Linked DNA regions of Homo sapiens: region 2 is reported to be linked to region 1. The links are microRNA targets in miRTarBase. Many come from high-throughput screens and were not tested one by one. Region 1 holds a microRNA gene; the other region holds the end of a gene's coding sequence.
Evidence for each region. The annotated mature microRNA hsa-miR-8088 reads CCUCGGUACUGGAAAGGGGUA and lies in region 1 at 2,129-2,149, shown strand. An mRNA with a match to its seed (bases 2 to 7 or 8) in the 3' UTR can be bound and repressed. Matches are read on the target gene's strand: a 7mer-m8 pairs with bases 2 to 8, a 7mer-A1 pairs with bases 2 to 7 and ends in A, and an 8mer does both.

Region 2: the mRNA of PABPC3 is a reported target of hsa-miR-8088. Seed matches in the 3' UTR shown: 7mer-m8 at 934-940.

Annotation. Positions count from the first base shown.
Region 1 is chrX:52,334,356-52,338,760 of GRCh38, reverse strand. MIR8088 (microRNA 8088) reads left to right here and starts at 2,119; the gene lies at 2,119-2,204.
Region 2 is chr13:25,097,311-25,101,715 of GRCh38, forward strand. PABPC3 (poly(A) binding protein cytoplasmic 3) reads left to right here. Exons shown (of 1, transcript NM_030979.3): 1 at 1-1,944. The coding sequence ends at 784. The region is part of intron 1 of LOC124900613 (a long non-coding RNA gene); the gene reads left to right. Among named protein-coding and RNA genes, the nearest start is that of PABPC3, 3.4 kb to the left of the region's middle.

The DNA of each region.
Region 1 (4,405 bases):
AAAAACATAAAGAGAATAGACTGTCTCAGCCTCGCAACCTACGCCTTTCTCCCATGCTGGATGCTTCCTGCCGTCAAACATTGGACTCCAAGATCTTCAGCTTTGGGACTTGGACTGGCTTCCTTGCTCCTTAGCTTGCAGATGGCCTATTGTGGGACCTTGTGATTGTGTGAGTTAATACTACTTAATAAACTCATATATATATGTGTATATATATATATATATATATATACACATATATATATATATACATACACATATATATATATATACACACATATATATATATATATATATTCTATTAGTTTTGTCCCTCTAGAGAACCCTGACTAATACAACTCCCTTTGAACTCCAAGTTTATTTTTACAGAGAGCTTGCCCTGCTACTGATGATGTATTGACTTGTATTTGGTAATCCCTTCCATTTTGAGTTTCTTTATCTGTTAGTCAATTTCCTTCAAACATTTCAAATGAATTTGAATTCTACAAGAGAAAGTACAAATCCTAAAGACTTCCCTTTATGATCTGGATTTACTATGGGAATCCTTATGTCAACATGAAAGATAAAGAAAATAAAAGAGTGTTCTGTTCCAGCCTTGGGGGTGTAGAAGGCATGGAGACAGTGTCAGATGGAGGTAAGAGACTCTCATCACAGTCTCTCTTCTATGGGCCTTATCTTACATGTGACAGGTGTGTCAGAGAAGTGGAAGGGAGTCCCAAATAAAGAGATTTTTTGCCCAGCTGAAATTTAGGACTCAGTTTACTTCTGCAGAAATAAATAGCAAGATCCTTGGTTAGAGAAATGGCTGGAGTTCAAGAATTTCAGTTTTTGGAGCTGATCTTTGTTCCTGCAGGGCGCTACATTCTCTGAGAAGGGAATGTGGAAGTGGCTGATTCAAGAGCCAGGAGTGTTACCATGAAGCAAGCATAACCCAGATAGGTGCTAGGTGACCCTGCAGCTGAGGCTGTGCTATGGACAGCCCTGCCCAGATGTGGGAAGGAGGATGAGGCCCCGATTCAGAGGGGTCTGCTGATGCCAGCACAGGTGGGCTGAGGCTGAGTCAGCCAGGGAGCACCAGATCCTGACCAAAATGAGAGAGACAAAAATGCAAGTTACACCAGCCAGAGAAATGGGTGAGCAAATCAGCATCGTCAGCAGAACCTGAGAGAGAAGATTGAGCCTTCCCTCATAAACAACTAAGGACACTGCAGTCAACATAAGATGTCATAGGCCCCTTCCCATATCACCATGAAGACTCGAAAGCCATACACACCATTAATCGTCTTGGAAAGGAGTAGGGAGGTGGGGTGGAAATCTGAGAGACTGATCATTTTCAGCAAAACAGGCTGAGCATTTATACAAATGGACCATTCACATGATAGCATCAGCTGACACCAGATTAGACATAACTCCAGTATTTTCTCACCTTACTGTCCAGTACAGAGGTTATGCACTCATAATGAAAATCAAATCAGCCTTAGCAAGTAAATGCACCAGACCCCCGTCTGGTCTGAGAAGCACGAATTAATTTGTGGTCTCTGCATACCATCTCTTCCAGCTCCCCCTCTGCCCACTGTCTTATCAGTCAGTGGAAGAGGGGATTGGGACATCCTTGCCTCTTCTTCTCCTTTAACCCAGGACAATTTTAACCTGCTATATATTGACCCTGACAACAGAGCACAGAAAGAGAAGACCAGAAGAGAGACACACAGAGTGGAGTTACTGATGAGAGTTATTGCTGAGGTGAGCAGGGCCTCCTCAAGGCTTGCAGCTGCCCTCCACTAGTGATTCCAGGCTCCACTGCCCTTTGCCAACACAGGCCTCATTTCCCATGGTCTGAGCCCTGGAGCTTAGAGTCAGAAAATGTTCGCAGCTCTGTGTACTGCTGGGGAAATTCATAGAACCACATGTTAGAACCACTGCACTTTCATAGTCATCTCCTAGGGTCTCAGTGCCCAGGAGCAGGCTTTCTTGGCATCTCTGGTCCCTCCCCTAGTCCCTTCTGTGGGGACCCCAAGATTTCACCTCTCTCCTCGAACCCTCTACCACATATCTATCCCCTCACTCTTAGCCACATCACATTCCCATTCTCACCTGAGATCCAAGCAGGCAGGGGGAGGGAGGAGGGCCTCGGTACTGGAAAGGGGTATGGATTCTGTTGTTTTGGCAACATTCTTCTTATCGGCACTGGGTCACTCAGCTCAGATCCATAGTTGGTTACCTGAGAATCTGAAGCCTAATCCATCTGACTCCAGAGAATAACAAACAAAGGAGTGGAAACTAAGACAGGATGTATCAAGGGAGGCCACCCACAGACATGGAATCGTGACTCTCAATAGATGTGTTTGTCACAAGGGTCCTTGAACATGCAGAGACACGTGTACACATGTGTACTCAGGAGCACTCATTGCTCCCTAGAGGATCACAGTGACTGTGGCATAAGTCCCAAATGTGTACATTGGGGACGCCTGGGATGAGGCGGGAATGTAGGCACATGGTAGATCATGAAAGATGAAGAGGCAAGATTTGTCTTTTAAAAATTATTACCTACCCTTTCTTTCAAGGCTGATTTTGACATTTGCATTACAGTTAGAGCCTCATGCACAACTATTTATTTAGAGTAAACTCTATACTAAATCTGTCTCACCTGAGAGATGAAGCCCCATTTCTTTTAAAAAGTCATAATAGTGCTGCAGTGAACATACGCGTGCATGTATCTTTGTAATAGAATGATTTATATTCCTTTTGGTATATACCCAGTAATGGGATTGCTGGGTCATATGGTATTTCTGGTTCTAGATCAGTGAGGAATCACCATAGGCTTAATACCTAGGTGATGGGTTGATAGGTGCAGCAAACCACCGTGTCACACGTTTACCTATGTAACGAACCTGCACATCCTGTACATGTACCCCAGAACTTAAAATAAAAATGAAAATTAAAAAAATAAAATGAAAACTAAAAACTGTAATATTACATTGCTGGCTCTTCTGATTTTGTTATCTTGTGTAGTTGCTCTTGAGTTCAGCGGATGCTGAAATGACAACTCTTGAACACCAGAGTAAGAGGTGGGTTGAACATGTTGCTTTTCATTTATAGTAGCTTAGGTCCAAAAAAGAAGATAGACCTAGATAAATAGGGACGGAAATGTACTCACTGATATTAGGAAATGAATGAATAGATGGAGAGATGGTGGTCCAATACACGGAAGTCTTAACCTACATATGAGAATTCATCCCCAAATTGTACTTTTTCAAGCAAAACTTTAGTTATTATTCTTCCTGCTGTGTGATGCATATTGAGTTAAGAAGCACTACTCAAGTGGGTATGTGGCATTTACATCATTTGTATATTTTCTAGTGCTCGGATGTTGGTCAGTGAGGAGAATTCCAGTGATTCGGCAGCCAAATAGATGCATTAAAAGCATCATGCAACTGCAAGCTTTTATTTATGAGCTGGTGATAAACATGTCACACAATGCCTAAAGGTGGCATTCGGGCCCGGAGGAGGTCACAGAGAACCATAGTGTTAAAATTAGGAAGAAGGTCCCTTTAGAGAGTCCGTTGATCTGCCTTATAGAATGATGCTGAGGCTTTTTAATGGAGTATGGCCTATTGAAGCTCTTAAAGTATATTTCTTGGATGGATAGATGGATAGAGTCATGATTGCATGCATGGCTGGATGGAGAGATGGATGGATGGACTTAAACAAGATTGTGCAGTGTCTGTGAGAGTTTCTTTGCTGATATAAAGGTATTTGTGTGATTGGCATAATAGAGGGAAGCCTGAGATCTTTCAGTGCAGACTTTTTAATGGTAACAACCACTGCAGGGATGATAGATTCAGCTAGGATTCAGACCCCTGGTCTTCCCTTGGTAATGACAATGTTACAGAGGGATCTGTATAAAATAGGCAGGCAGCACAAGTAAGTGGTCTTTTGCTTTGGAGTCATCTACCTCACAAGATACTGTTGGGAGATTAAACAAATCAAGGTATTAAAGTGTTCCCAGCACATACTAAATACTCAGTAATGTTCATTTCCAGTGTTACTTTTTGTGGTGCCTTAGAAGACCAAGGATTTGTACCTATTAAGATGAGTAGGAGTGTCAGTAGTCACATGACCATGCTCATTACATCTACAGATATTAGTATTGTAGCAGATTATATATTTTTTTCCATGTTTCAATTGTTGCTCATAATTTCTGGTCTTCAGTGAAGCCCTCCACTGCCGCTTTTTAATAACACATTAATTTTCAATAAAATCATCATTTGAGTGACTTATAACTCCAAGCAGAATCTATTGCACTCAGACCACCAACTTGTTATAACTTCCAATTCAATTGTACACTCCATAAAATACAGTGAGGAAACAGGCTAAAGAAAAATCACAAGATCATATCAATAGA
Region 2 (4,405 bases), not on the chromosome of region 1:
AGAAGAGCGCCAGGCTTACCTCACTAACGAGTATATGCAGAGAATGGCAAGTGTACGAGCTGTGCCCAACCAGCGAGCACCTCCTTCAGGTTACTTCATGACAGCTGTCCCACAGACTCAGAACCATGCTGCATACTATCCTCCTAGCCAAATTGCTCGACTAAGACCAAGTCCTCGCTGGACTGCTCAGGGTGCCAGACCTCATCCATTCCAAAATAAGCCCAGTGCTATCCGCCCAGGTGCTCCTAGAGTACCATTTAGTACTATGAGACCAGCTTCTTCACAGGTTCCACGAGTCATGTCAACGCAGCGTGTTGCTAACACATCAACACAGACAGTGGGTCCACGTCCTGCAGCTGCTGCTGCTGCTGCAGCTACCCCTGCTGTGCGCACGGTTCCACGGTATAAATATGCTGCGGGAGTTCGCAATCCTCAGCAACATCGTAATGCACAGCCACAAGTTACAATGCAACAGCTTGCTGTTCATGTACAAGGTCAGGAAACTTTGACTGCCTCCAGGTTGGCATCTGCCCCTCCTCAAAAGCAAAAGCAAATGTTAGGTGAACGGCTCTTTCCTCTTATTCAAGCCATGCACCCTACTCTTGCTGGGAAAATCACTGGCATGTTGTTGGAGATTGATAATTCAGAACTTCTTTATATGCTCGAGTCTCCAGAGTCACTCCGTTCTAAGGTTGATGAAGCTGTAGCTGTACTACAAGCCCACCAAGCTAAAGAGGCTACCCAGAAAGCAGTTAACAGTGCTACCGGTGTTCCAACTGTTTAAAATTGATCAGAGACCACGAAAAGAAATTTGTGCTTCACCGAAGAAAAATATCTAAACATCGAGAAACTATGGGAAAAAAAATTGCAAAATCTAAAATAAAAAATGCAAAATCTAAAATAAAAAATGGAAAGGAAACTTTGAACCTTATGTACCGAGCAAATGCAAGGTCTAGCAAATATAATGCTAGTCCTAGATTACTTATTGATTTAAAAACAAAAAAAAGATTACTTAATTTTGATTTAAAAACAAAAAATCGTAAAATACAAAAACCAGTTAATGTTTTGTAGACCCTGGGAAAAGAATTTTCAGCAAAGTACAAAAATTTAAAGCATTCCTTTAATTTTTTAATTCTTTACTGTGGAATAGCTCAAAATGTCCATTCTGTTTTAAGTAACAGAATTGATAACTGAGCAAGGAAACATGGTTTGGATTATAAAATTCTTGCTTTAATAAAAATTTCTTAAACAGTGAAAAAAAGAAAAATCATCAATTTTACTAATAGTCTTTCTTTACATTTTCTATTATTCTATCTCCCACTATATTTCAAATATGAAAATCACTTTTTCACCAAAATTTTAGGTCTTTACATAATAGTGTTTATTTTTAATATTCATAAATGAAAATATGCAATGACAAAATAGTAATTATAAATTCAGTAACATTTGTTCAAAATTGTAAGACAATTATTAATTTATACTGCATTATTTTTAAATAAAAAATAAATACATAGTTTTAAAAATCTAATTGAACAGGAGGCTAAACATGGTTCTGATCACAGAGATAATCACTTTTAATCATTTGGTTTTAGTGTTTCTGGTAGTTGATTTTCTTCAATAATAATTGTACATAGTTATTTCTTGGTTTATCAATTTTGTAATTTAACTATTGACTTCCTGCTGTAACAAATAAGGATATGTTTCATCTACCTCTTCCCACCATCCCTCCTCCTCCTCCCAATATAATTTATCACTACTTGTAGCTCCTTTATTGGTAATATTAATTAATATAAATATTTATAATTAATGTTACACCTAGTGAATTGTATAAAAGGACAGCCCATTTGAGCATTCTCCTTTAAGATGAGTAGAGGCTGTGACATTGCACTACATAGAAATATAATTATACCATATTACTTTGCAATAAACTATGTATTATAGAGAGATGGTCACTATGTAATGTGGGTATAGCTATACACACACATACACACAAACATATAAATAATGTGTGTGCATATATATAATATACACACATGTATGTTATACACACACACACATATGTATATATATATACATATATTATATATATATAAAAAATACATGCTGTTTATTCATCCCCATTTTGGGGGCCTGTAGGTAAATTATGGAGAAATCCCTTATGGTTAAAGTTAAATGATTTTCATAACTCATAAAATTAGAATGTTCATATTTGAAAAAAATATAAAGATGTTTTGAGGTATATTATTTACTCACTGACAATGTCTGATGTATACGTGGTCCATACAGCAGGGCTTCAGTCCTCAGATGTTGCCAGTTTCCAGGTTGTTAAATACAAGTTTGCTGAAGGTCTTGTCATAAGTACCCCAATAGTTTAAATAGTGTCTTCTTCTTTTTTGTTTTATTTACTTTATTTAGAGACAGGTCTCACTGTCACCCACACTGGAGTGCAGAGGTGCGATGTTGGCTCACTGCAATCTCTGCCTCCTGGGCTCAAGCAATTCTCCCACCTCAGCTTCACAAGTAGCTGGGACTACAGGCGTGCGTCAACACACCAGGCTAATTTTTTGTATTTTTTGTAGAGACAGTGTTTGCCATGTTGCCCAGGCTGGTTTCAAACTCCTGAGCTCAAGGGATCCACCCACCTTTGCCTTCCAAAGTGCTGGGATTACAGGTGTGAGCCACCACGCCCGGCCTTATTTTTAAAAATGGGTTATTCTCGGTTTAGCAATCTTTCTGTTTTTTTTTTTTTTTTTTTTTTTTGAGACGGAGTCTCTCCCTGTGGTGGCGTGATCTCGTCTCTCTGCAAGCTCCACCTCCTGGGCTCAAGCCATTCTCCTGTCTCAGCCTCCCAAGTAGCTAGGACTACAGGCGCCTGCCACTACACCTGGCTAATTTTTTTTTTTTTTTGTATTTTTAGTAGAGATGGGTTTGCACCGTGTTAGCCAGGATGGTCTTGAACTCCTGACCTTGTGACCTGCCCGCCTTGGCCTCCCAAAGTGCTGGGATTACAGGCGTGAGCCACCATGCCTGGCCAGCAATCTTACAATTTAACCTTCTATTGACTTCCTGCCAAATTAGATTATAAGCTTCCTAAATACAGAAACTGGGTTTGCATAACAGACAATTAAATGCTTGTTGATTGGTCAACATCATATGTCCTGAGGAATTTCATATACTTAACAATCAAGTGCTTAAATTCTCATAACACTTCTCAGAATAGCTGAGGGAATATTGGTGTGAGTGTGCAATGCTATTCTAGATGATGTGGGACAAACAGAAAGAAATGATCTCCAGTCCACACTCTTGAGAAGTGCCCCCTATCCTGGACGACACACACGTCCACAAGTAGCTCCTGGCCATATGGAGGGATGAGCAAAGTATAGGGGGAAGCACAATGTACCCAGCAGAGAGATCTGGGAAGACCTTGTGCATAAGATGGCTTGTGAGCCGAGCTTTCAAAGATGAGTGGGATTTTGAGGATAGTCAAGAAGAGAAGAGGAGTCCGAGGCCAAGGGAATTTGACTAAAGGCAGATGTTTCACCAGATTTGACAATGCGTTCCATGGAGTAGTGTTGCCTCTGAGAAGCAGCTGCTTGTTTAGAGGCTGTGTGTCCCAGCTCCTTTCTGCATCAGGACAGGGCATGTCACTAGCCCTTACCCAGGGGATGTTAGTGGGAGTGATGCATGTCTTTCAAGGCAAGGCAGTTAAGAAACTGATGGGCTCTCCAATGTCACTTTCCCCATCCACTGGGTGAAGAACATTGCAATTCCTTGAGAGAGGAGCCACAGGACAGAGGGAGTGTGCATGTGTGTGTGTGTGTGTGTGTGTATATATATACGTATACACACACACATATATATATATATAGAGAGAGAGAGAGAGAGAGATACGGTCTTGTTTTGTCTTCCATATTGGAGTACAGAGGTGGGATCATAGCTCACTGTAGTCTTGAATTCCTAGGCTCAAGCAATCTTCCCACCTCAGCCTCCCAAGTAGCTAGGAGTAAAAGCACACACCACCATGCCTGGCTAATTTATTTTATTTAGTTAGTTTGTAGAGACAGGAGCCTTGCTATGTTGCCTAGGCTGTTCTTGAACTCCTGGCCTTAAGCAATCCTTCTGCCTCAAGCCTCCCAAAGCACTAGGATTACAGGTGTGAATCATCACACCCAGCCTAGGTATATTTTATTTTACATAAAATTACAATGTTTTATATAAAATATGTACATTACTGTATTTGACTTGAATGTTATTACAGTCAATTATTCAAACTTGAATTAAGTCCAACTGCCTGATCAGTGATACATTAAAATATCATAATATTTACTTATCCAGCAATCTCAACTCTTTTAGTCCCTTCAGGCTGTTATAACAAAATACCATAAACTGCGTGGCTTGTAAACAA